5 separate regions of the Homo sapiens genome follow, and all the other regions are linked to region 4. The links come from fine-mapping of genetic effects on gene expression. A gene starts in region 4. Each other region holds a variant in brackets. All regions are shown on one strand. Distances are from middle to middle.

Region 1 (5,107 bases), 200 kb after region 4:
CATGATTGTGAGGTCTCCCCAGCCACATGGAGCTGTGAGTTCATTAAGCCTCTTTCTTTTGTAAATTGCCCAGTCTCGAGTTATGTCTTTATCAGCAGCGTGAAAACAGACTAATACGGTGCCATGACTGATTCAGTGTCCTGGGCATGGTTGATGATGGGCATCCCTTGCACTGCCAGGCTTGGACATCACTGGCCAAGGGACTGAGGTGGGCATCCAGGTCAGGGGTCTTTGGGACCTGGACTGGAGGGCTGCAACGCCATCCATCTTTTGGCCTAGTCCAGGTTTTCTGTCCTCCTCAGAGGCTCAGGTGGCTGAGGTTCTAGCATGCCCATGCCCAGGCCCACGAGTATGCTCTTGGCATGGCCTAAGGCCTGGTTCTCAGCCCTAGCTGTTCATCAGGAAGCTCCCAGAGAAGCTGTCAAACATAGACATTCCTGGTTCCCACCCTGTGAGATTTTGATCTGAGAGGTCTGGAATAGAGCTTAAGCACCTGTATATGTTTAACCCCCCAGGTGATTCTAATATATAACCAGGACTGGAAATCTAAATCTGTGGTTCTCGATCCTGGATGCACATTAAAATCACCAAGGTGGGGGTGGGAGCAGATTTTTTAAAAATACTAATACTTGCCGTCTGTATCATAAAGATTCTAACTCTCTTGGTCTGGCAGTGGGCCCAGGTATGTTTTTTAGTTTGTTCAGTTGGTTGGTTTTGGGTTGGTTTTAGCTGCCCAGGTGATTCTAATGCACAGTCAGGATTGAAGACCCCTGGTCCAGAGGATTTTGTTCAGGGAAGTTAACTCGTATTTGAGTGAGTGCCAGGAAAAGGCAAGCCCTGGGGAAGATCCGACATACTGAAGGGCTATTGGTGGGCCAGGTAGACAGCAGTGCGCTGGGGCAGTGTGGGAAGGGCCAGGCGGAGACAAGCCAACAGCCTCAACAGAAGGCTTTCTGGCCAAAGCAATTTGTTGACACAGGTCTGACTTTTTAAAATCTATTATCTTGGGGGCCAAGATGGCTAACTAGAAGCAGCAGTGCTGAGAGGCTCCCATCCAAAATAAGCCATAATAAGTGTATGAATTCTTCACCAGCAACCAAGGTATCCAGGTTCTGTCATCAAAATTGACTAGAAGGCTGGCGTGACCCACAGAGAGAAAGAAGAGCAGTGTGGTGGGGCAGCCCACCTGAGAGCCACACAGGGAAGGGGAACCCTTGGGCCCCCTCACTCACCGCCTCCCTCCTCCAGCCGAGGGAAGCAGTGAGTGAGCACTCTACCCAGCAGGGGAAACTGTGCTTTTTCCACAGAACTGTGCAACTCACGGATCGGAAGTTCTCACTGATGAACCCACGCTACCGGGCCTAGCATCCTAACCGTGGAACATGCAGATTTTTGAGGCCTCTCAGCTGGAATCTGCTTAAGCCTACCAAACTCCCTGAGGGAGGAGTGACCAGCAGGGGCTGCGGCTGCCTGCTGTCTAAGCCCTTTGAGCTCTTTGGGGGCGGGGCAGCAGCCAGCACTGGGACTCACAACTGCCTAACACGCTAAGCTCCTGGGCAGGGGAATAGCGGCACCCATCTCTATACCTCCAGGCTGCACTTTTCCCCTGCTGGAGCCAGGGAGGCTGAGTGGTTTGGTCCCAAGAATTATCCCCACAGCCCAACACACCACCTGTGGCAGTCTGCGGCCAGAGTGCCTCTTCAGGTCTAACCCATCTTTCCTAATTGGGCGGGGCTACCCTGCAGGATCTCCAATAATGCCAGCCAGAGGCTTAGGGACAGAATTTGGATGTCCCTGGGCCTGAGCCCCTAGAGGGAGAAGTGGCCCCAGTCTCTGCAGACCAGCAGACTTAGCCTTTCCGGAGTCCTGGTAGTTCTGAGGAATCTGGGAAGCCCAGATGAGTGGGTTTCCCTGAAGTGAAGCCCACCTTCTCCACCAAGGGACAAAGTGCTTCATTAAATGGGTCCTGCTCCCTGTGCTGCCCAACTGGGTGAGACCCTCTAACAGGGGTTGTCAGATACCCTATACAGGAGTGATACTACTGGCATCAGGTTGGTGCCCCTCAAGGTCAGAGGTCCCAGAAGAAGGAGCAGGCACCCATCTTTGCTACTCTCCAGCCTCCTTGAGTGACGTCTCCAGGCATGGGAGCGAATCAGATGAATAGGGCCTGAAGTGAACCCCCAGCAACCTGCAGCAGCCCTACAGAAGAGGGGCCTGACTATTGAAAAAAAAACAAGCCAGCAGAAAGCCACAACAACAACAACAACAAAAGGCCCCCACAAAAACCCCATCCAAGGGTCAGTAGCCTCAAAGACTGAAACTAGACAAACTCAGAATAATGAGAAAGAATCAGTGAGAAAATGCTGAAAACCCAAAAGGCCAGAGTGCCCCTTCTCCTCCAAATGATTGCAATGTCTCTCCATCAGGGGCGCAGAACTAGATGGAGGATCAGATGGATGAATTGACAGAAGCAGGCTTCAGAAGATGAGTAATAAAAAACTACGCTGAGCTAAAGGAGCATGTTCTAACCCAACGCAAAGAAGCTAAGAACCTTGATAAAAGATTAGAGGAATTGCTAACTAGAATAACCAGTTTAGAGAGGAACATAAATGACCTGATGGAGCTGAAAACCGCAGCACGAGAACTTCGTTTAGCATACACAAGTATCAACAGCTGAATTGACCAAGTAGAAGAAAAGATATCAAAGTTTGAAGACCACCTTACTGAAATAAGACATGTAGACAAGGATAGAGAAAAAAGAATGAAAAGGAATGAACAAAGCCTCCAAGAAATATGGGACTT[A/C]GTAAAAAGACTGAACTTACACTTGATTGGAGTACCAGAAAGAGATAGGGAGAATGGAAACAAGCTGGAAAACACACTTCAGGATATTATCCAGGAGAACTTCCCCAACCTAACAAGAGAGGCCAACATGCAAATTCAGGAAATACAGAGAACACCATTAAGATGCTCTATGAGAAGATCAATCCTGAGAAACATAATCATGAGATTCTCCGGGGTCAAAATGAAGGAAAAACTGTTAAGGGCAGCCAGAGAGAAAGGCCAGGTCACATACAAAGGGAAGCCCATCAGACTAACAGCAGACCTCTCAGTAGAAACTCTATGAGCCAGAAGAGATTGGGGGCCAATATTCAACATTCTTAAGGAAAATAATTTTCATCTCAGAATTTCATATCCAGCCAAACTAAGCTTCATAAGCGAAGGAGAAATAAAATTCTTTACAGACAAGCAAATGCTGAGGGATTTTGTTACCACCAGGCCTGCCCTGCAAGAGCTCCTGAAAGAAGCACTAAATATGGAAAGGAAAAACCATTACCAGCCACTGCAAAAACCACACCAAAATATAAAGACCAAAGACACTACAAAGAAACTGCATCAACTAGTGTGCAAAATAACCAAATAGCATCATGATGACAGGATCAAATTCACACATAACAATACTAACCTTAAATGTAAATGGGCTAAATGCCCCAATTAAAAGACACAGACTGGCAAATTGAATAAGGAGTCAAGACCCATCAGTGTGCTATATTCAGGACACCTATCTTACATGCAAAGACACACACATGCTCAAAATAAGGGGATAGAGGAAAATTTACCAAGCAAATGGAAAGCAAAAAAAAAAGCAGGGGTTGCAATCCTAGCTTCTAACAAAACAGACTTTAAGCCAACAAAGATCAAAAGAGACGAAGAAGGGCACTACAAAATGGTAAAGAGAACAATTCAACAAGAAGAGCTAACTATTCCGAATATATATGCACCCGTTACAGGAGCACCCAGTTTCATAAAACAAGTTCTTAGAAACCTACAAAGAGACTTAGACTCCCACACAATAATAGTGGGAGACTTTAACACCCTACTGTCAATATTAGACAGATCAACCAGACAGAAAATTAACAAGGATATTTAGGACTTGAACTCAGCTCTGGGTCAAGTGGACCTAGTAGACGTCTACAGAACTCTCTACCACAAATCAACAGAATATACATTCTTCTCAGTGCCACATGGCACTTATTCTAAAATTGACCACATAATTGGAAGTAAAACACTCCTCAGCAAATGCAAAAGAACAGAAATAATAACAAACAGTCTCTCAGACCATGGTGCAATCAAATTAGAACTCAGGATTCAGAAACTCACTCAAAACCACACAATTTCATGGAAATTGAACAACCTGCTCCTGAATGACTCCTGGGTGAATAATGAAATTAAGGAAAAAATCAAGAAGTTCTCTGAAACCAATCAGAACAAAGAGACAACGTACCAGAATCTCTGGGACACAGCTAAAGCAGTGTTAAGAGGGAAATTTATAGCACTAAATGCCCACATCAGAAAGCTAGAAAGGTCTGAAATCAATACACTAACATCACAATTAAGAGAGCTAGAGAGGCAAGAGCAAACTAAATGAAAACCTAGCAGAAGGCAAGAAATAACTAAGATCAGAGATTAACTGAAGGAGATAGCGACATGAAAAAACCCTAAAAAAAAAAGTCAACAAATCCAGGAGCTGGTTTTTTGAAAAAACTCCGGGGACTGTTGTGGGGTGGGGGGAGGGGGGAGGGATAGCATTAGGAGATATACCTAATGCTAAATAACGAGTTAATGGGTGCAGCACACCAACATGGCACATGTATACATATGTAACAAACCTGCACATTGTGCACACGTACCCTAAAACTTAAAGTATAATAATAAATAAATAAATAAAAGAAATTCACAACCAAAAAAAAAAATTAACAAAATAGGCCACTAGCTAGACTAATAAAGAAGAGAGAGAGAAGAATCAAATAGACACAATAAAAAATGATAAAGGGGATATCACCACTAACCCCACAGAAATACAATCAGAGAATACTATAAACACCTCTATGCAAATGAACTAGAAAATCTAGACGAAATAGATAAATTTCTGCACGCATACACCCTACCAAGACTAAACCAGGAAGAAGTCAAATCCCTGAATAGACCAATAACAAGCTCTGAAATTGAGGCAGTAATTAATAGCCTACCAACCCAAAAAAGCCCAGGATCAGATGGATTCACAGCTGAATTTTACTAGAAATACAAAGAGGAGCTGATACCATTCATC
Region 2 (5,107 bases), 75 kb after region 4:
GAAACCCAAGATCAACGTGTCAGCAGGTTTGGTTTCTCCTAAGTCCTCCCGACTTGGCTTGCAGATGGCTGCCTTGTCCCTGTGGCCTTTCTGCATGCATTCCTGGTGTCTCCACTTTTTCTTACAAGGACACTAGTCTTGTTGGATTAGGGTCCCACCCTTATGACCTCATTTAACCTTAATCACCTCCTTAAAGGCCCTATCTCTAAATACAGTCACACTGGGAGTTAGGGCTTCAATCTATGAATTTCTTCAACCCATAACAAATCTAAAACAGGTATTTTTGCTATGCTCTATTTAGAGGCAACCACTATCTCCATAAGCATTTTTACAATACATCCTTTTACTATTATGGCAGCCTGTAGTGTCTCCTCTATAGTTAATGGCTAACTCTGGTTTTAGCTAGTAAAAGTGTGAGCCATCAAATTAATTGGAGGTGAGTCACAGAGACTGTAGTAGGTATTATTTTCCAAAGATGTAACACCATTATCTCCCATCTAACATGATTTTCTGCATGTGGCCTTGACACCCCCACCACTGAGACATGGGATCAACCTATGTGGTCACACAGGGCCCCAAGCCTAGAAAGGCTTCATGCTTGATTTAACACTCTGCTGTCACTGTCTTAAAATTCTTCACTAGTTTTGAACAAGAGACCCCTCATTTTTATTTTGCACTAGGCCCCACAAATTATGTAGCCCATCCTCCAGAATTGTGATGAGCTGTGAATGACTGATTGACTAACACAGTCTGGTAGAAGTGATTCTAAGTGGCGTTCAAGCGTAGGCCGTAAAGGGTGATGCAGCTTCTACTTTGCTCAAGAGTATATTCATTCCTGAAAACTTTGGCCCTCAGGAAAGGTGTCTGACTGCCCCGAGGCGGTACTGCTATGAGAAAATCCAAACTAGCCTTTGCAGAGAGACCAATAAAGAGGTCCTGAGTCAATAGGAATAGAGAGAGAGAGATGTCTGGCCAACCCCAGCTGCTGCAAGCCTTCAACTGGCTTCAACTGCATGAGAGACCCTGAGCCAGAAGCACCCAGCAAAGCCCTTCCCAAAACTCTGCCCCACATAAACTACGAGAGAGCATCAAAGGATCAATTGTTGGGTTAAAAAGCTAAGCTTGGGGGCTAATTCATTATGCAGCAATAGATAACTAGAACAGAGACTAAGTGCTATTCATGAAAATCTTTTTTTAAAAAGGTAAAAGTTACTTGTATTGTGTCAAGTACTATATATTCTAAAGCTGTGAGTTCTAGAAATTAATATGCATTTAACCAAAAAATATTTTCTTATAAAAGCAATACATGGTCATTATTTAAAAATTAAAATCATAGATAAACAAAAAAAGAAGTAAAATACCTATAATCCAGAATTTTAAAACAGTTTACTTCTGAACTCCCAAACATTTTTCTTTGCTGTAAACACACACGTACACATGCACACACAAACACACAAGACAAATTCTAACACACGAGCATAACTGAAACACACATTTTCTACAAAATTGAAATTATCCTATGTTTTCAAATCTGCTTTTTAACATAACAGACTATGAATATATTTCCATGTCAATAAATTTTCCTCTAAAATTTTCTCTCAAACAGAGTCCCTCAGAGCTTTCAGAATCTGAAGGAGGTGACTGCAGGTCCCCAGGAGGGGTGAGGAGGATGGCAAGTGGGTGAAGGTCCAGACCTCAACTCAAGAGCAGCTCCCCTTTGATCTCCTTGACATATTTGGAATCCCTCACAAATTTGCATTTGGGAAAAGAGCTCTCCTGCTTAAAAAAAATATGAAAGCCTCTATCAATAATTTATTCTTAACAGCTTTTGTAATGATTTAATTTATTTAATCAGTCCTCCTTCTGGTGGCCATATAGATATTTTCCCAAATGGATGATGTTACAAACTGATGTTATCAACAAACTGGGCAACTAAGTTTGTGTGTGTGTTCTGTCATTTTGTAAAACAGAATTCTGAAAAGAAGTGTTGTAAATGAGTTCATATTTTAAGAATTGTTATTTATTTGGCCACATCATCTAGTTATTTATGAATATTTTTTAAAATTGAATTATCAACCAGGCGTGGTTCACGCCTATAATCCCAGCACTTTGGGAGGCTGAGGCAGGTGGATCATTTGAGGCCAGGAGTTCGAGACCAGCCTGGGCAACATGGCAAAATGCTGTCTCTACTAAAAATACAAAAATTATCTGGGCATGGTGGCATGCACCTGCAATCCCAGCTACTTGGGAGGCTGAGACAGGAAAATCACTTGAACCCAGAAGGCAGAGGCTGCAGTGAGCCGAGATCATGCCACTGCACTCCAGCCTGGGTAGCGGAGCAAGACTATCTCAAAAGAAATAAAATAAATACATAAAAATAAATAAATAAAAATTTGAATTATCATCAATTCCCTACCACCCCAACAAATCAACATTCATTCTCCATATTCATTACAGTTTGGGTCAATATTCAATCACAATTTTAAAATAATTACATCAATACAACTTCTTGCTTTTTAGTCTACTGGTGAAAAGTTGTTATTTAATGATAAAATATATCTAGGTTTTTATATATCAAGTTTACTTAAAGTGTACCTGCAAAACTAGAAGCTAAATGCATTAGAAAGAGGGTCTTGTTGTTGTAGAAAAATAGAATAAATTAATCTATTGTGAATGTGAACAAGAATAGTAAAAGTCTTTTTGAGAGCCTTAGACTTTAAACACCCTAAATCAGTTTCAATTATCACTGTCAACTGGCAGAAATGTAACGGTACAAGACTTCTGCTATCACTAGGGAAGAAAGAGATGAGGTTTGCCCTACAGATTATGAGAAATATGAAGGGTCACTCTAAGCTAATGTAGGACCAATTCTGAACTAATAATAAAATAAAATAATTTTATGTAGTAATTAGCTCACAAAAATGACTCCTGCAGGGAACAACACTCTACAAATGAATTAAAAAGGAAATGAGGAAAACATTTACAAGCAAAGGCTCTTTTTTTCTGGCCAGATATGGAGCTTGATGAAATAATCCAACCTGAGACTGCTGAGCAAGAATCTCCTGAGCTGGGTGAGGTGATAGAATACACAGCCTAGAAACCCAA[G/T]TCAGGGACAGATGATGGGTGAGCTGGTGACCAGCCAAGATGTCAGAGGTCAGCAGGGTGATTCCTATGCAACAGCAAAGAACTAAGCAGGAACCAAGCAGCACAAACGTAGGCAGGACTGAGGCGGTAGCAAGGGACCTGACCGAGGGCAGAGTCAGGCAGAAGGGCAATGGCAGAACCACGGACAGCTCCCGGCAGCTGCTTTTCTGTCTTCATTTCTACCCTACTTCCCTGGGCAGCTGAAAACAAATCTCTGATCTTAAGATCAGAACTCAATGCCTTAAAGTTACATTACCTGGTTAATTTATTTGCAAGTGTTCCAAAGTATTTTTGGAAGGAGATGGGACATAAAACTCAGACATCTATAAATGATTCCTAAATGAATAGATGTATAAACAAATAACCCAAGTAAACATCCAAATAAAATCTTCAGGAAGACATGTTCTTGGGGTTCAGTGGGAGAATCTTTGCCCTTAGATGGTGGGACTGGGTCAACCTCAGAGCATGCTGGAGCCAGTAATGTGACTTAGGCAAGAAAAGAAAGAAAAAAAAACAGCCCCAATGCAAAAAGCAAGCACTAATTTAGAGGGACACAAAACAAACGCATTTGGTATTTAGTTTTTGCTTGTGTTTTAAGCATATACTAAAATATAAGTGAGAAGAAACTAGGAATAAAAATAATGAAAGAATCAGCAGTGAGTGGGGTCAAGTGTTAGAAGCCAGAAATGAGAGGGGGTGAGAAAACATTAAGAAGTCTCGGGATGTGTGTGCACACACATGTGCATACACACACACACAACACACACACATGACTGAGGAATGCAGCTTTGAAAAATATATACAGGAAATTATTTTTACCACTGAGCCTAGCTTCACCTCAGACTTTAGTATCACCTCTAATTAAACAATCTCCAAGTCTCAACTTTCCCTCCCTGGTCATATAAGATATGAGTCCCAGTGCTGCAGTTAACCCCAGCACGACTCATGCTAGACCTGTCAGAGTCAACTTGATGTCCTCCATTTCTGAACCCCATGCAGAGTTCTAGCAAAGTAGGTAGCATGGTCACTCTTGTGTTGATCTTTTGATTTCCTTACCTGGGCTGTAAGTTCCTTTAGGGCAGGAATCTAACTCCTTGTTGGGTATCAAGTTCCTATCAGAGGTCCTGGCTCACAGCAGGTATGATATCCTATCAGATAACGAGTCCCACCTATTCTGCCTCCATAACACCCTCCCCCTGGCCTTCCATCCTCCACCTCTGTGATCACCTTGCTTCAGACCTCACTGATGGAAAGAGAGGAGACAAGAGAGGTCAAGGGTTGGGAGTTAGGAATAACAGCAGTTATCAATTCCATTCTCCCACAGGGCACAAATGTTGTGTTCGGGTCTTGATTTTCAACTCTTTATGCACACGACACTTAGCCAAATGTAATTCTTTGTCATTCCTCAAAATGCCACTAAAACCTTTCTGCCCATTTCTCTATTCATGTCACTTCCTTTTTGTGTGCCCGTTTCTCTATTCATGTCACTTCCTTCTTGTGGAACACCAGGAATTTCTGCTGGTCATCTCCCCCTCTGACAGCATACAGGGCACCACAACTGCCCTTCAAGTACAGGCTGCACTGCATCAAGAAATTTGCATTGTTGGATTTTTCTAAAACTCTTATCACCATGATCTAAAGCAGGGGCAATAATCTGAGAGAAGATGACTTAACATAAATTCTGACAGGACTTGGAAATAGATACAAATTGGTTTTATCTTATGGAATATTTCATTAGCATTAAACTACAAGGCTCCCATCTCAAATATGTTTTCTAGTTAAATGAGATCAACACTGAAATAAGGAAATGGATAATATCAATATTTAATTCTCCAAATGGCATTCAGTTTTTTATTTTGTTGTGGGTGTGTACAAGGAAGTGAACTGTTCCTAAACTGGAATGTTTAGGAAAGCCACTGAGCTGCTCTCCTGTACAGTAGAAGCTTACCACATATGGCCATTT
Region 3 (5,107 bases), 110 kb before region 4:
GATGTCTGGGAATCATTTCATCTATAATCAAATTCTATTTTATTTTTTTCTGCTAGAGATACAAAATAGATAATTACTGAGAAAAAAAACTGGGGAAACTTTCCACACACATAATTTGTGTCTAGAAACATAGAAACAAACATTTCTTTAGAATGTACAAAATGATTCCACATACAATCTGTTATGGTAGAAAGCCTTCTAAAATGGACCTGGTGCAAGAAATCCTAGTTGAAGTCCTAGTGACAGGAGCTCTGGACTAGAAACCTCATTTATGGTAGAGGTGGCTACCAAAGCCCTCGGCATGGTGAGTTCACACAGGCAGCAATTACAGAATGGGAGGAGACAAGAACGGGATGGTGGATGGGAGGAACTCCAGTAGTTAATGAGCCTGCCAAAGAGGCTAAGAGGAGCTTGTAGAGAATTAGAGACAAGGCAGGAGAACGTCAGGTCTCTGAAGTTAATGGGAAAGAAGTGTTTAATGAAGAAGAGGACTTTGCTTATGCCCATGATAGACTAACAGGGACCAGATTTGCCTGCCTTCTTTAAACAGCTACTAAAACAGACAAGGTATATCCAACGATGATTCTCAGACATTCAACCATGGTTTTCAGGCAGCACAGGACAGTGATCCCTGAGAGAAGAGAAATAAATGAGGTGTGTCTCCTGCAATTGACACAGCCAGCTGTCTGAGAGTTTCCAGGTGCCAGCCAGGGAGGGAGGAGCAACAGAGCTTGATGGTCTTCCTGGGTCAAGGAGAAAGAAGTGAGAGTTTGGGGAGACCAATTTATTCTCTCCTCTGTCTTCTTCCAGAGAGCTTTGAAACCTGTGATCACACTGAGCTGTCCCTGGGGCCTGGAACTAGCTGCAAACAGCCTCATGAGTGGGTGAAAACATGGCAGGCAGCCTAGGTGGGAGAAGTGATAGAGGGGCCCATTCTGCCTGGAGAGTGCAGGTCCATGGGGGAAAGGAGGGTCAGCCTTCCAGGTGTGGAAGGACTGGGTACAGGGGTGATGCAGGCTGAGTGGAATCTCAGGGTCTTCAGGACTGCCAGGGTCCTAGCCAGGGCAGTCACCTACTTCTCCGCCGACTGGTGGCTGCTCTTACTCAAGTTTGTCTTTGGAGAAACTTGTCTGGAGTTCAACACACCTGTTTGTTAACTTCATGGTAAGAAACAGCTGAAAGAAGCCCACCCACCAGGCCTGGAAGTCCAGCTCTGTGGGAGAGACATGGCTACCATTTTGTCCAACATTTGTTATCCAAATCACTGTGTCTTGTTTTAGTCTATGCAGTCCCCAAGCTGACCCCATCCTTGCATACCTCAGAGGCGGTGACAGGCCAAAGGCCTCCTTTCTTTGGTGTCAGTCATTAGTTAGGACCAACATCCTTATACAGAGGCAGTGATCCCCAAATCAATCTGCCCAAGAGCCTGAGGTGTAGGTGCCAAAGACCTAGTGCTGCCAGCAGCAGCCCACAGAGCCACGAAGTCACACAGACCGGAGGGAAAAGCAAAGCCGAATCTCCACCCAGAAAGTCAGCTCTAAGAGTGGGCCAGGGGCTGTTCACTCCCAGCCATTCTGGAGCCTGGCCAGGTGAGGCAGCTCCGGCAGGCCAAGAGAGGATGGGGCTGAGGAAGTGATGGGAAGTGAGACCCAGGACCATGCCAAGCTCTGCCACCATGCCTACATTGTGATGCTGAACTAACTACAATTCTGGTTAGTGATGTGTGTGTGTTTCCTCGAGAGCAGCTCAATTCAGTGGGGAGAAAGGCTCTATGATGTTCACATAATGTTCATCACCCACTATATTAGTGTCTGAATTTCTACCCAGAACACTTGTGCCTGTCAGACAAGACAGCAGTTCAATTAGCCTCCAAATGTCACAATTTCTAGTAATTACAGTCATGCACAAACAATAGAAAAAGCACAACAATGGGTCTGATTTGAAACATTAACTTTCAAAAATGCTCACAAATGAATGATTTCATCTATAATCAACTTCTATTTTATTTTTTTCTCCTAGAGATAGAAAATAGATAATTACTGAGAAAAGAATTGGGGAAACTTTCCACACACATAATTTGTGTCTGGAAACATAGAAACAAACATTCTTTGGAATGTACAAAATGATTCCACATACAATCTGTTATCCTTGTAGAAAACCTTCTAAAATGGATTTGGTGCAAGAAATCTGAGTGGAAAAACAGCTGTGGTTTCAGGCATGTCAAACCTGAAATATGCATGTATGCATGTGTGGGTGTATGTGTATGCTCCCCATAATAGGACCCTGTTCTCCTCACTCTCTATGTAACCCACGCATAAGTGGGCATGAAATGATTAAATAACAAAACCCCAAGCTGCGGTACCCAAGGAGAATATCTGATAGAGCAACATTAAAAAGTAGCATAGAGTCAGCGACTGCTATGCAGTGGGAAGACTTGGTAACTATAGCAACTTGCTTTAGAAGTTGTTCTTTCCCTGCCAAAAATCAGGTAAGCCTTGTCAGCACTCCCACTGACACACCACAGGGAGACAGAAGCTATTCAAGAGAGGCAGCAGGCCAGCCACACAAAGGGCACATGAAGGAAAGTAAACCTTCTTAAGTTTCTGCACTACATGGGTCTATGGGGGAGCAAATTATGAACAAGAACGAGTAGTACAACTGAAGAAGGCTGAACATAGAGGATTTTTGAACTCTTGAAACAGAATGACAATTATGTGTAATGACTACATCAGCCCAGTTGTGACCATTCTAATATAAACTGGCATGGAGCACAGGAAAAGATCAGCACACAATCAGGAACCAGGATGAGTTATTAATAGGACCCAGACAGGGTACGGGTATTTCCTTCAGGCTCCTAGAAAAGGCTTCACCAAGTCCACAGAAAGGAGGACCGGAGTTAACACTAGTTACCCACCATATATAGTTAGATTTTGTAGTTGGCAGCAATTTTTTTTTTAAGTTTAACTTAGTAAACTGCATAGTTGATCCCATAGAAGAATCTCAGTTCTTCTCATCGAATGCTTTATATTAAAAATCCTGGAGCAAATACAATTAGA[G/C]GAACGTTGCTATGCCAGGTGAACCTCAGTGACCTTCGGCAATCCAGTCTCTGAAGTTGGCAGAAGGTAGGCATCTCTCACACTGAATTGGTGTACTGTATTGGACACGGCCTGAGGCTCAGCTCATGCATCTTGCTGCAGCACTCAGTGCAGCTGATTACTGCCTCCTCGTCAAACATTCCCTCCGTGCGACTTCAGGAGAACTCACTCTCTTGTTTTCCTCCGACCCCACCAAGGCTTTTGCTCCCTTCTGTTTGTAGGATCTTCCTTCTATTGCCCAACTCTAGATGACCTAAGTCTTTGAAGTCTTCCTCTTCCATTTCCTGCATGGACTCTTTTAATGTCATGGTTCTCACTACCTCTGCATACTGATGACTCCTATTAATATCTGTAGCTCTGGACGGGTGCGGTGGCTCATGCCTGTAATCCCAGCACTTTGAGAGGCCGAAGTGGGTGGATCACTTGAGGTCAGGAGTTCGAGACCAGCCGACCAACATGGTGAAACCCTGTCTCTACTGAAAAAATACAAAATTAGCCGGGTATGGTGGCACACACTTGAAATCCCAGATATTTCAGGGGCTGAGGCAGGAGAATCAATTGAACCCAGGAAGCAGAGGTTGTAGTGAACTGAGATTGCACCACTGTACTCCATATTGGGCAACAAGAGGGAAACTCTGTCTCAAAAAAAAAAAACCAAAAAAATCTGCAGCTCTTGGACTCAAGACTGCTATAGCTGACCTCCCTCTCATTATGTCCGCATGGATGTCTAACAGGCGTCACAAACACAGCATGCCCCAAACTGTCTTCTCTTAGTAGACAGGTGGTTCCACCATGAAAGTACTTCCCAAATCGGAGCCCTCCAACTCTGCTCCTCAGCCCCTGTCTGCCCCTAGCCAACACTGGATTGCTCCTGTGGCCTCCTGAGTTCCCTGCCTTTGCCCTTGCCCTTTTCTATAGTCTATTCTCCATATCACAGCCAGGTTCTTTTAAAAATACAAATCAGATCCCATCACTACCTTGTTCAAAAACTTCCCTTGTTTTTGTGTCACAGGAGGAATAAAAACCAGAGTTCTTGCCGCAGCCACTGAGCATGAGCAGGTGTGCTTCCTCTTCAATTCCCTACCCTCTCCTCTTGGCTCACTCTGCTCCTGATGTACGGGCCTTCTCTGCTGCTTCAAACATGACTGCAGAGCCTCACACTTGCTGTTATCTCTGCTTGGAATACCTGGAATCACTCATTCCCTTTATCCCAGTTTCTGTTTTCTCCTTAGAGAGAACCACTCTGCCTATTTTATTTAACAACCCCCACTCCTACATTCCATTCTATTCCTTTATCCTGTTTTATTTTTCTTTGCCACACTAGTCACTGCCTATATTATCATAGGTAATTTGTCTCCCTCAGTAGAATGTGAGGTTTATAAAAACAGGGACTTTTTGTTGTTGTTCACTGCTTCCCCCTAGGACACATGAATGGTGCCTGGCACATGGTGGGTGATCAGCAAATATCTGTTAATGAATGAATAAACACACACATAAAGAAAACAACTGTATTTTTGTGTAACACATTGGCTGTGACATATAATGGTGCAGCAGTTTTTAAACTTCTTTTGATTTCGTTGCTAAATGGTCTGGTTTCTTTAACAAATCAGGTGATAAAATAAATCATACTGCCAGAGAATTAACATTTGGGGTTAAACATGGCTATTCCATTCCTTTTCTATAAAAGAGATTTCAGAAATGTAGCTAATAGAGGAGTCTGAATAGAATTAGAAGTAGGATTTTAGACCTGGAAGAGTCTTCTCCCTATATCCTCCTCCCCAAGAGCAAATATAAACTGTGCCTTCCAAACTGTGTGAGTTAGGAGGAACCTGTCCTAAGCTCATTCACAAAGGCATCCTAATACAGGTGCTTTTCTCAGAGGACTTCTCTTTCTAGTTGCTAAAAATAAATAAATAAAATTCCCTCTATATCATTACAGAATTTTAAATATTAACTACCATGTACTGAGCATTAACAATATGCCACCTGTTTGATATTCACTTGTTTAATCC
Region 4 (5,107 bases):
ATAAGGAAATCACAAGGTACTATGTACTGTGATAATGAAAATCCAACACTTGGAAAAGATATCTTAAGTTATTCCTAAAATAAAGCAAAATGTATAATTAAATATAGTCTTATACAATATTAAAACTGTCTCTGAATATATGAATATTTACAAACATGAGTAATAAAGTAACTCTATAGCATACCTTATAAATGATCACAACTATGTATTTTGGATTGTAACACCTGCAAATTTGTAACAAAAAGGGCCTTAATATTTTTCGAATATATTATTCTTCACTAACTTAATTCAATATTCTACTTATTATCAAGTCATAATTTTTGTTTACTATTAACTATTTTATCTATATGTTTAACTATATGTAGGTATTAACTGTAATAACCTTTATGTCTGCAATTATTTAAAACCCTTGATAGATGAGAAACATTTTTCAGTTCAGAGGCATACCTCTCCAAAGCAAAAATCAATGTTAATCAGCCATTCTAATATGCCATGGAAAATCCTGACATTTTTTCATTGTATTTTTCACAGAAATTTTTTAATCATTCATCAGCTAAAAGATTTAAATTTTCTTTAAAAGGACTACAAAAACACACCTTTCCTGAATTTATGCACACTACCTACTAAATATTATCTCCATTTACATATAAGGAAACCAAGGCACAAAGGTGTCCATTTTGTAAATTGCAAGGTCATTTCCTAACCAAGCAACTAATCCTACACCATCAACTTATATTATATGTACGCCACTTCCAAGTGCCATAAAACAATTACTATACCTTAAAACTGCCTCTGCAATGCTTATGTGATTCTCTTTTATCAAAAGGGTAAATGCAACAAGCTTAAACAAGGAAAGATGGAAAAGGAAAATTATAAAAATACAACACTTACTTTTTATAGTGAATCATTTATTTTTAAATAATGAGATGTAAACAGTTTTTAACATAAAAATCAAGTAACCAACAGTGGTTTCTTATATTTGCAAAAAAAAAAAAATTTCATCCTTCAGGTAGATCACGCAAAACTGAAGCCTACTCATACTTGTAGATTCAAGTTAGAAAAAAAAAAACTGGATTCTAAAACAAGTAATTAAATACATGATATTGCAAAGAAAAAAGTGAATAAAAAATAAAATCAGATAAATTAGGGAATGACTGATATGATGGTTAAAATCCTCATCTTAAATATTAAATCCTTCCATTCAATGGAAGGCAACGATTAGTAATGACATATTCTGCTACCGAAAAACAAATACAAAACTTTTCTTATTCAAAACTTCCGAAATTTTATATCAAATACTTCATTCAAATATTCAATATAAACAAAAATGTTTCCTAACAGAAACTTAGAGCATAAAGGATAAACTGTTCCTGAGAGTTCAAATTGAGACTGCATTTCTAATTATGATATAATGCTATGAACAATCAGAAAAATGAATGTTACCTACCATGCAAATTTAAATTTAAGAACATTAGACGGATTGAATAACCAATAAGTCAATTACATCAATTAGTGAACAGAAAAAAGACCTTAGCTAATCGTGAATCTAACACCAAAGAAAAAATTTAAGTCGAATCCACCGCACATCTTATTACATAGAAAAGGAAATGATTAGAGTAAGTCGTATTTAAGTACCTAGTCTAGCTGGGGATCAATTAATTAATCGGTTATAGGGCAGGACGTGAATGTTGAGATCGGATGTGCTTTCTTTCATCGTTATTCCAGTTCATCATCCGCAAGTGCAAGAGAAGGTGTCAGAGTACCGAAGCTAGGGGGCATGCTGTAGCAAGGGGAAAAGAAAAATGGGAAAGGTGCAATGGATGCTGCATAGTTGAATAATTATCTGGGTGGCACAATGGGCGAGTCCTGCCGACATGAGCGCTGAGTGAGCGGCTCCGTAACTCTGCCCAAGGCAGCCCCCATGAACAGGCACCAGAAGCGACAGCACCGCTTCGCCTCCCCTTCCAACGAAGAAAAGGATGCCCGCACTCGCTTTACCGTTATGTTTTCAGACACCGACTCGCGGAGCAAACACGCAAACGCACGAGCTCGCTTTACCGAGCCTCGCGCACGTAGGGCGAGCAGGGGATTCTCTGTCGCCCGGGGCTACCGCCTCCCCCGGAAAGAGGCACGGGGCGGACCGCGGGCGCGGGTGGGCAGGGAAGCCCGGGCGGTGGCACCTCAGGTGACACCCACAGTCTCTCCAGCGAGAGCAGCCCCGGGGCGGTCCCTGCAGCCAAGCCCCAGGCGCGCCCGCCGCCGTCTCCCTCGGCACCCAGCCCCGCTGGCGGGTGGGCGGTGGGCGCTCGGAAAACCCGCGGATGGGGGTGGGGGCCGGGGCGGGGAAGGCGCGCCCATCCATCCCCGTCACCTTTGCGGGCCACACACCACTCGGTCTGCTCCGGCCAGTAAGGAAGAGTTCCTCTCCCAACACCCCCTCCCCGAAAAAAGCAATTCCTCAGGGACTCGCGCTCACCGTGAAATCTTGGGGGCTCACGCCTTACCCCTTCTTCATGCTTCGGCAGCGGTCGCCGGTCCCCCTCGGCTCGCGGGACTCCGCCTAGAGCCCCCAGGAGGGTCGGGCTCTGGGGCGGAACCCGCTCAGGGCAGCGGCCCAGGCGCCAGGCCACAGGGAACGCCGCCTGGGGCGCCAACCCGCCGCCGGACCCACCGTGTGCTCGACGCGCGAGTGAACAACACCGCGAGCTGCCGTTCCCCCCGCCCCCTCCCCGCGCGAGACGCTCCACAACCGGGCGCAGGGACCCGCGCCAGAAGCAGGGGGGACCGCGAGACTCTTTCCGCCTATGGTCCCATCCTTGCCCCCCGCCCCAGGAGCTATTCCTGGCCAGTCAGAGGTCTCAAAACTTCAGATTCTCACTTTCCTCTTCAGCCTCCAGTGCCCAGGTGCAGCCGAGGTGGGAAATCCAGCCTCCGCCCACTCCCCCATTAGTGGGGCCGAAGCTCGCTCTTCCCCCCTTTCCTGAGGTTCTGTGGTATTGCCCAATCCTCAGTTTGGGGGAGGGGGACGAAGAGAACACTGCTTGGCTAGGGAATGAGGGAAGATGATAGCCAATTGAATGGAACATCCATTCGGGGGCGGGGTCAAAGGGGGACACGCCCCCGTTCCGCCCCCTCGTTGCAAACTACACTTCCCATTGTGCCCTCTCGCGCTTCCTGCCGCGCTGCACGCTGGGAGTGCAGGACCGCGAGGCCTCAAGGTATTTTGGAACTCATATTCTTTAGTCAACTAGGTCCTAAATGTTATAAACTATTATAATTCTCCCTTTTTCCCTAGATAAACTTTTTTAAGCTCTCAGCTCGACAGTAGTTATTCTAATAATAATTAGCTTATTGTTTCAAAATGTAAGACATTATTTCTTAGCAAAGAAAGTTAATGATGTGTTCCATTGCAATCTGTCAGGACCTGGGAGCCTCTTCTTCTTCCGCCCTGGCAGGGTCTCCGCAGAAGATTTGTTGCCGTCATGTCGGCTGCGATTGCAGCTCTGGCCGCTTCCTATGGTTCGGGTTCAGGGTCCGAATCGGACTCGGACAGTGAGAGCAGTCGGTGTCCGCTGCCAGCCGCCGACTCCCTCATGCACTTGACTAAATCGCCTTCATCAAAGCCGTCTCTAGCAGTGGCAGTGGACTCGGCTCCGGAGGTGGCAGTTAAGGTAAGCACTTTTGCTACTAATGCAGTGTGGGAATTGTTGGCTTCAGCTCCAGAACTGCCAGCCGCTTGTTAGGTACCGGGTTACCTCTTTCTCAGTGCTCAGAGATAAGTTGCTAACGTTTGAATTTCTTCTCCTTCCCACATGCATCCTCGGGAGAGGCAGAATTGGAAGTTCGGAATAGCCCTCCGATGCTCTCTGCCCTTGCCTCCCGCCATCAGAAAGCAAGTGGAAGGAGGGGATGAAATTTGAATTTGTGGATTAGGGACATAGCCTGGAAAGTGCAGGTGTAATCTCGGAACATAAGTGAAATTAGATCAGGACTTCCCAAACTAGAGTATTGTGTGAGCAGTGGCCTCGATTTGTCTTATTTTTGAAGAACTAGGTTCTAATCCTGGCACCACCACTTGTGTGAACTTGGACAAGTTATGCAGCCTCCTTTCTTTCCTCACCTGTACAGTGGAGATCATTTTCAAAACATCTGTCTACATGAAAAGATGAGTGTGAAAATTGAGTGAAATTACACAAATAAAGCATATAGCACAGAGCCAACTAGTGAGAGTGCAGTAAATGTTTTATGATTGTGTGTGTTAATACAGTGAGAAAAAGGCCTTGGATTTGAGAAACAGCTGCATGATCTCAATGGAGGAAGCTGATTAATAAGGCAAGAGTTTCCAGGCAGAGGTGACAGGCAAGCCTGAGAACGCAAAGAGCCTAGTGGGTTTGAAGAACTGAGGAAAAGCTGATGTGTCTGGAGCCTGATGAGAGCATCTACCAATTGGTAGTGTAGGCCCAGTAGAGCCCGAGGTAGGTGATCAGCTCAAGATGTGAAGAGGGGAGGCGGTGTCCAAAAATTCCTTTGTATCATGTCCCCAAGTCTAGTTTAATGACTTAAGAAGTGTTTTACAGGTTTTTAACAAGCTGTATGTGAATTTTACTTTTTAAAAATGGACATCTGTCATGAAAGAATGCTTAGAATCCTCCTAACTTCCTATCAAAACAAAACTTTCCAAACTTAAGCCCCTCCAGTAACCTCCTGAGTCTTCTCCTTTCACAGCTCAGCTTTTTGGAGCTCTCTTTTTGTCTTCGTCTCATTTTCTCCTCAACCCAATGCAGTCTGGCCCTATCCTCTTGGGAAACTACTGTCTGTGAGTGATGTCCCAGGCCTTCCAGTTGTCAAGTTCAGCCATCTGACTTAAATGTCTGCATCAAATGACACTGTTCATTAGTTCCTCTTTCTTGAAACTTTCTCTCCGTTTCGCTTCCATGGGGCTCTACTCAGCATTCTGTTCCAATTATTTTACTCTCCCTTTTCAATACTGGTGTTTCCCAGGACTCTGCTCTTAGTCCTCTTTGCATTCCACATATTCTCCCATACCTTCAACCTCAGGCTGTGCTGCTTCTAGCTCAAGGTGAACACCGTGAAATGGTTAGCACAG
Region 5 (5,107 bases), 33 kb after region 4:
TCTACTAAAACAGAAAAAATTAGCCAGGCGTGGTAGTGTGCACCGAGTAGTCCCAGCTACTCGGGAGGCTGAGGCAGGAGAATTGCTTGAACTAGGAAGAGGGAGGTTGCAGTGAGCAGAGATTCGCGCCACTGCACTCCAGCCTGGGCGACAGTGCGAGACTCATCTCAGAAAAAAAAAAAAAAAAAAAAAGTGTTGAGCTTGTTATCCTGGGAACATACTCGGACCAGATATGTAGAAGTCATTATAAAGAATTTATAACCAACTTTAGGTATAATGAGGTTCTAGAACATTCATTTTAAATTTCACTCCTTAATTTTCTTAGGAAGAGCAAAAAGAATTGGATGAAATCACAGCAAAGAGGCAGAAAAAAGGAAAACAGGAAGAAGAGAAACCTGGGGAGGAGAAGACAATCTTACATGGTAACATATTTTTTGTACATCTTCATTTTTATGAAAAACCTTCATATTTACTCTGTTCGCTGTTCATACAATATCAATTACCCTTACTATCAGCTGTAATAAAATCATTATGTTAAGTATAATTGTGTTGGACAATTTGTATCCCAAGGAAATTACAGCAGACTTCTGTATACTGATAAAGGAGAAAAAATAGCATGATTAATGATAGCCACAGATAATTTTTTTCCAAGTGTGAATGAATTTTATTAAATGGTAGATAAAAAGAAACTTGAATAGTCCACAATCTATTCTTTCGTAAGATAAAGTTGACTCTTTTGGTGTATTAATAGTGCCCCAGTCATTTTAAATGTTTTTAATGAAGCCAAATACTCAGGTATCCTCACAGTTCATAATCGTTATTCAGCTATATTCAGAATAAACTTGGATTTTCGTGTGAAAAGATGGAGCTTAAGGCTCTCATACTTATTTTGACTTGTAGAAGGAAATGCATATTCACCAAAACAAATCGTAAGTATTCTAGAATGTACCTGTTAATAATTAGTTATATTTAGGAAAATACATAGTGATTATCTAAAACTGTAAAGAATAGCTTAGCATTTACAGTGTTGCTTATTCTAATGTTATATTACATCAGATATTTAGGTTTGATGAAGCCATATTTGGTTCTTCAAGCTTCAGTTTTATCTCCAAGGAGTCTATTTAGTACTATGGTACTTAAAACTATAATAACAATAATATAAAAATAACATTTATTGAGTACTTACTCTGTGCCAGGCATGCTGCTAATTGCTGTATATATACTATGTCATTTAATTCTCACAGGTGACTTTATTGTAAAATTTGTGATGAAAGTGGGAAAAGATAAATGAAAAGGAACTGGAAGGGCATAAGAGAGGAAAGCAGGGGAAAAGGATAGTTGATATATTTTGTTTTGTTTTAACTTCCTTCTTAACCTGTTTTATTTCTGCTTCTTTACCAGTGACTAACAAGGCCCAAGTATTATCTTCCCTTGCTATAATTATGCCACAGTGAAGTCTTTATAGATCACTAAGATGTGTAAGTGATGAAAAGAAGTATAGATATTATCTAAAGGTCTATAATCTCTGGATATTTAGGAATTTCGAAATACTACCTCTAGTTGTAAATGATAGCAGTTATTTTAAGCACTTAAATCTTAGCTGACTCATGATCTTGACATCATTGGAGTGTTATTACCTAAACCTTAATATGGAATGATATACCTGTGAATAAAATGTTATTTTAAGAATGTTAGGTTTCATGACTATGGGTTGTATTTGTTTATTGATTTTCTTTGCCTTTTTGTTTCAGTTAAAGAAATGTATGACTATCAAGGCAGGTCCTATCTTCACATACCTCAGGATGTTGGTGTTAATCTACGGTCAACTATGCCACCTGAGAAGTGTTATCTTCCCAAAAAACAAATTCATGTGTGGTCTGGACACACAAAGGTAAGCAAGTTGGTTGTTTCTGTTTGCTGTAATGTTATAATAATGAAGCCAACGTAAAGTTTTAGCTGTTGATGTGGAACATTTAGTATTTCTGGTAAAGGTACAGGGAAGTCAAATTGAATGTAAGCCTGAGTTATGCTTTGGAGATGCCCACACATCCATCACAAGTGACTAATCAGTCTTCAAGGCCATCTGAATTGGCCATGACATAGCATTCATGATTTAGTGTCCTGTATCCTTGTAGCCAGGCCTTTCCCCACAAGCTCCTGCTACAGTCTTCTTCCTTTTGGGCACCAAATCAGTGAGTAATGGGCTGGTACTAGCACCAAGTCTCCTGCTTAGCTTCAGTAATTTTGCTTTAGCTCTGTGGTTATCACACTTCAGAGATTAGATGCGCCCTGGTTTATAAACTATGGTAATTTTTAAACTAATGCAGAGATAAGGGTCATGAAAAATTTTGATGTTGATATTCTTTGTCATCTGTACTATTCCAACTT[A/G]TAATTTCCAACTCTTTGCAAAGAGCAAAGGACTAAGTAAAAAAAGGAAGAGAAGTGGGGGTATTAGCAATTTGATTGACTCAGGATTCCATTGGGTGAGGAACTCAATATTAAAGGTTAAAAAAAAAATCTTCAAAAGCTTAGTGTCAATAAGGCCTGCTCTTGGAATGCTAATGAAAGTTATTCTGGGGTGAGATTTTTGGAATGAAGAAAAATAGCAAATTAGGCTGCTTAATATATACTGTCTTTTCTTGATGCTTCATTTGAGCTGATCTTTTGAATGCTTCTGGTTGATAACTGTAATACCTTTTTATAGGGCGTCAGTGCAGTCAGATTGTTTCCTCTCTCTGGCCATTTATTGCTGTCTTGTTCCATGGACTGTAAAATTAAGGTGAGTTTTCAGTAACAGAGTAGGAGTGCTGCAAAGCTAGTTCTTTGTTTAAATCTGTTTGATTAATTATAAATAAATTTGGGTTTGTTAGGCAATTAGAAGCTAATTATTTTCTCTTAGATCCTGTAAATGCAGCAATTTATGAACTACTTCCAAACATAAAATCAACTATGGCTCTGTGGTCCAATTGGCTAGGCCCCTTTTTTTGTTGTTGTTTTTGTTTTTTGTTTTTTTGTTTTTTTTTTTTGAGATGGAGTCTTGCTGTGTTGCCCAGGCTGGAGTGCAGTGGCACGACCTCAGCTCACTGCAAGCTTCGCCTCCCGGGTTCATGCCATTCTCCTGCCTCGGCCTCCCCAGTAGCTAGGACTACAGGCACCCATGGTGGCTAGGCCCCTTTTTAAGCTTAGACAACTGATGAGAATGTAATCCAATCATTTTGGCTTTGGACATATAAATATTTAATCACTAATCATTATAGAGATTTTGTATATGTAATAGTTTATTTGTTTCTCCAAACCTTATGAAATAGAGAGGACATAGGTTAGAAATCCCATTTTTAGAAAGTAGAAAATGTAATTCATCCTTTTTCTTCTAAATACTAGTAGACACCAAGTAACTGGACTGCTCCCAGCCCCTTCTTTTCACCTTTTCTAGTCTTGGGAAGCTCCATCTTTAGCTTCTGTTCAGTCATAGAATGTGTGGTAGAAAAAACTCCGTTGCCAATGCATCTCAACCTGAATATGCAGGATGTCTTGAAAAAAATTTTGAATCTGAAAGGATAGTTCTTACCAGTTTTGTGTCTTCTCTTTGTCCGGACCATGATGATGGTTCAATAAATACCAACCCTATAGTGCTCTTGGGGCTTGAAAAGTTGAGTCATTAAAATTTTATCATTTGTAAATAATTCATGGATATTAACAATAAAAAAGGCCACTTTTTTTTATAAGAGCAACCATTTAGGCATTTGTCTCTAATAGCTTAAAATGACAGGCCAACATTTTGGAGTAAAAACCCCCATTTTACTTAACTTTTACTTTTACTTTGTACAAACCATGTTAATTGAGATGTTGGTCTTTTCTTTGACCAACCAAAAAAGCATAGAATTCAATTAGTTCACTTCTATAAACATTCTATTATGTGCAGGGGACTGAAAGTAAAAGCTTATAAAGGCACTGTCCCTCCCCTTAGGATGATCATTTTATTATGATATAAATGATTATTATAGAGGCAAGCACAAGATATGCTGGTTTCAAAGAGGAAGCATACCTTAGTAAGTTGGTTAACTAAGTAAAGGATGAGGAAACAGGAGTAGAGTATGCTTGAAAAGAGAATGGATCAGCATGGTGTGTGCTGAAAATAACAGTTTTGTGCTTGCTGGAGCATAACATCTAAGAGACAAGGAATGATTGCAGTCATGAGCAAGAAACCAGGTCTCAGAGGTCGTTTCCTAGTATGCTACAGTAACTGAGACTGTGTCCTATTGGCACCAGTGGCAAGGAAATGCTTTCTATTTTAGAGTACTAGCAACATTGTTGAGAATTGGATTCAAGGCAGTCAAGAATAAAGCTAGCCTTGAAGCTATTGTATTAATCCACCTTAGATATGCTGAGAATTATGAGCCTTTTATTTTAGTCTAGATCATCATTTTCTTACAGCTTCTGTAATACTTGTTATTCAGAAAAGTAAACAGAAAAGGCTTTCAGTATCAAAATGTTATATACATGGCAGTTTTAATAACAATTCCTTTAAACGTCATTTGTAGTGCTACAAAAGTAGAAACTTTTCATCCTAGAAAATGTATGAAATAGAAAAGAACAATATGAAAATGAAAACTTACCTGAATTAACTCCATCTATAGTTAAGTCTCTTTTTTGATGTAAATATCTTTAAAACTCTTTAGTTTTGAGCGTGTGTGACTCTGTGTGTGTGTGTTCCAAATAATATAACACAAACTGGCAGCACCAAGCTATATTTAATGATATTCAGTGTTTAATATTTAATGATTGAAGCTGTGCGTTTACACACACAGATGTGCACACACATAACCAGCATAGGGCTGTTGTTATTAATTGAAGGACCTTTATTAAATGTAATATTTCCATGTGTTGTTTTTTTTCTCCCCCAGCTATGGGAGGTTTATGGAGAACGGCGCTGTCTGAGAACATTTATTGGTAATGCTTCTTTTCTCTCCAACATAAATCTGGGAAGAATTTTTAAAGTAAGATAACATCATTGACAATAACTTTACTACACCGATAGGAAGTAAACTCTTCATAGATTTCAGCTGAATCTGGAAGGAGGAGTCAGTGTCCCCAGTTAGACAAAGAA

Evidence for each region. PIP is the estimated chance that this variant, and not a neighbour inherited with it, causes the effect. A credible set is the group of variants that fine-mapping cannot tell apart.
Region 1: its variant is the best candidate, but not a certain one, in a credible set for the expression of WASF1 in whole blood (INTERVAL, PIP 0.84).
Region 2: its variant is the best candidate, but not a certain one, in a credible set for the expression of WASF1 in whole blood (TOPMed, PIP 0.73).
Region 3: its variant is the best candidate, but not a certain one, in a credible set for the expression of WASF1 in skeletal muscle (GTEx, PIP 0.70).
Region 5: its variant is the best candidate, but not a certain one, in a credible set for the expression of WASF1 in whole blood (INTERVAL, PIP 0.78).

The regions. Positions count from the first base shown.
Region 1 is chr6:110,377,277-110,382,383 of GRCh38, forward strand. No RefSeq gene overlaps it. Among named protein-coding and RNA genes, the nearest start is that of METTL24, 21 kb to the left of the region's middle. The variant A/C (reference allele first, on the strand shown) is at 2,803.
Region 2 is chr6:110,252,279-110,257,385 of GRCh38, forward strand. All of the region lies in intron 4 of METTL24 (methyltransferase like 24), which reads right to left. Among named protein-coding and RNA genes, the nearest start is that of CDC40, 74 kb to the left of the region's middle. RefSeq lists a silencer at 3,155-3,355. The variant G/T (reference allele first, on the strand shown) is at 3,106.
Region 3 is chr6:110,065,610-110,070,716 of GRCh38, forward strand. No RefSeq gene overlaps it. Among named protein-coding and RNA genes, the nearest start is that of GPR6, 90 kb to the left of the region's middle. The variant G/C (reference allele first, on the strand shown) is at 3,057.
Region 4 is chr6:110,176,963-110,182,069 of GRCh38, forward strand. It overlaps WASF1 (WASP family member 1), which reads right to left and starts at 2,708. Exons shown (of 11, transcript NM_003931.3): 1 at 2,477-2,708; 2 at 1,636-1,780. It overlaps CDC40 (cell division cycle 40), which reads left to right and starts at 3,465. Exons shown (of 15, transcript NM_015891.3): 1 at 3,465-3,671. The coding sequence starts at 3,483. RefSeq lists silencers at 2,068-2,387, 2,628-2,737.
Region 5 is chr6:110,210,382-110,215,488 of GRCh38, forward strand. It overlaps CDC40 (cell division cycle 40), which reads left to right. Exons shown (of 15, transcript NM_015891.3): 6 at 326-422; 7 at 1,752-1,891; 8 at 2,705-2,779; 9 at 4,905-4,950. Among named protein-coding and RNA genes, the nearest start is that of CDC40, 33 kb to the left of the region's middle. The variant A/G (reference allele first, on the strand shown) is at 2,389.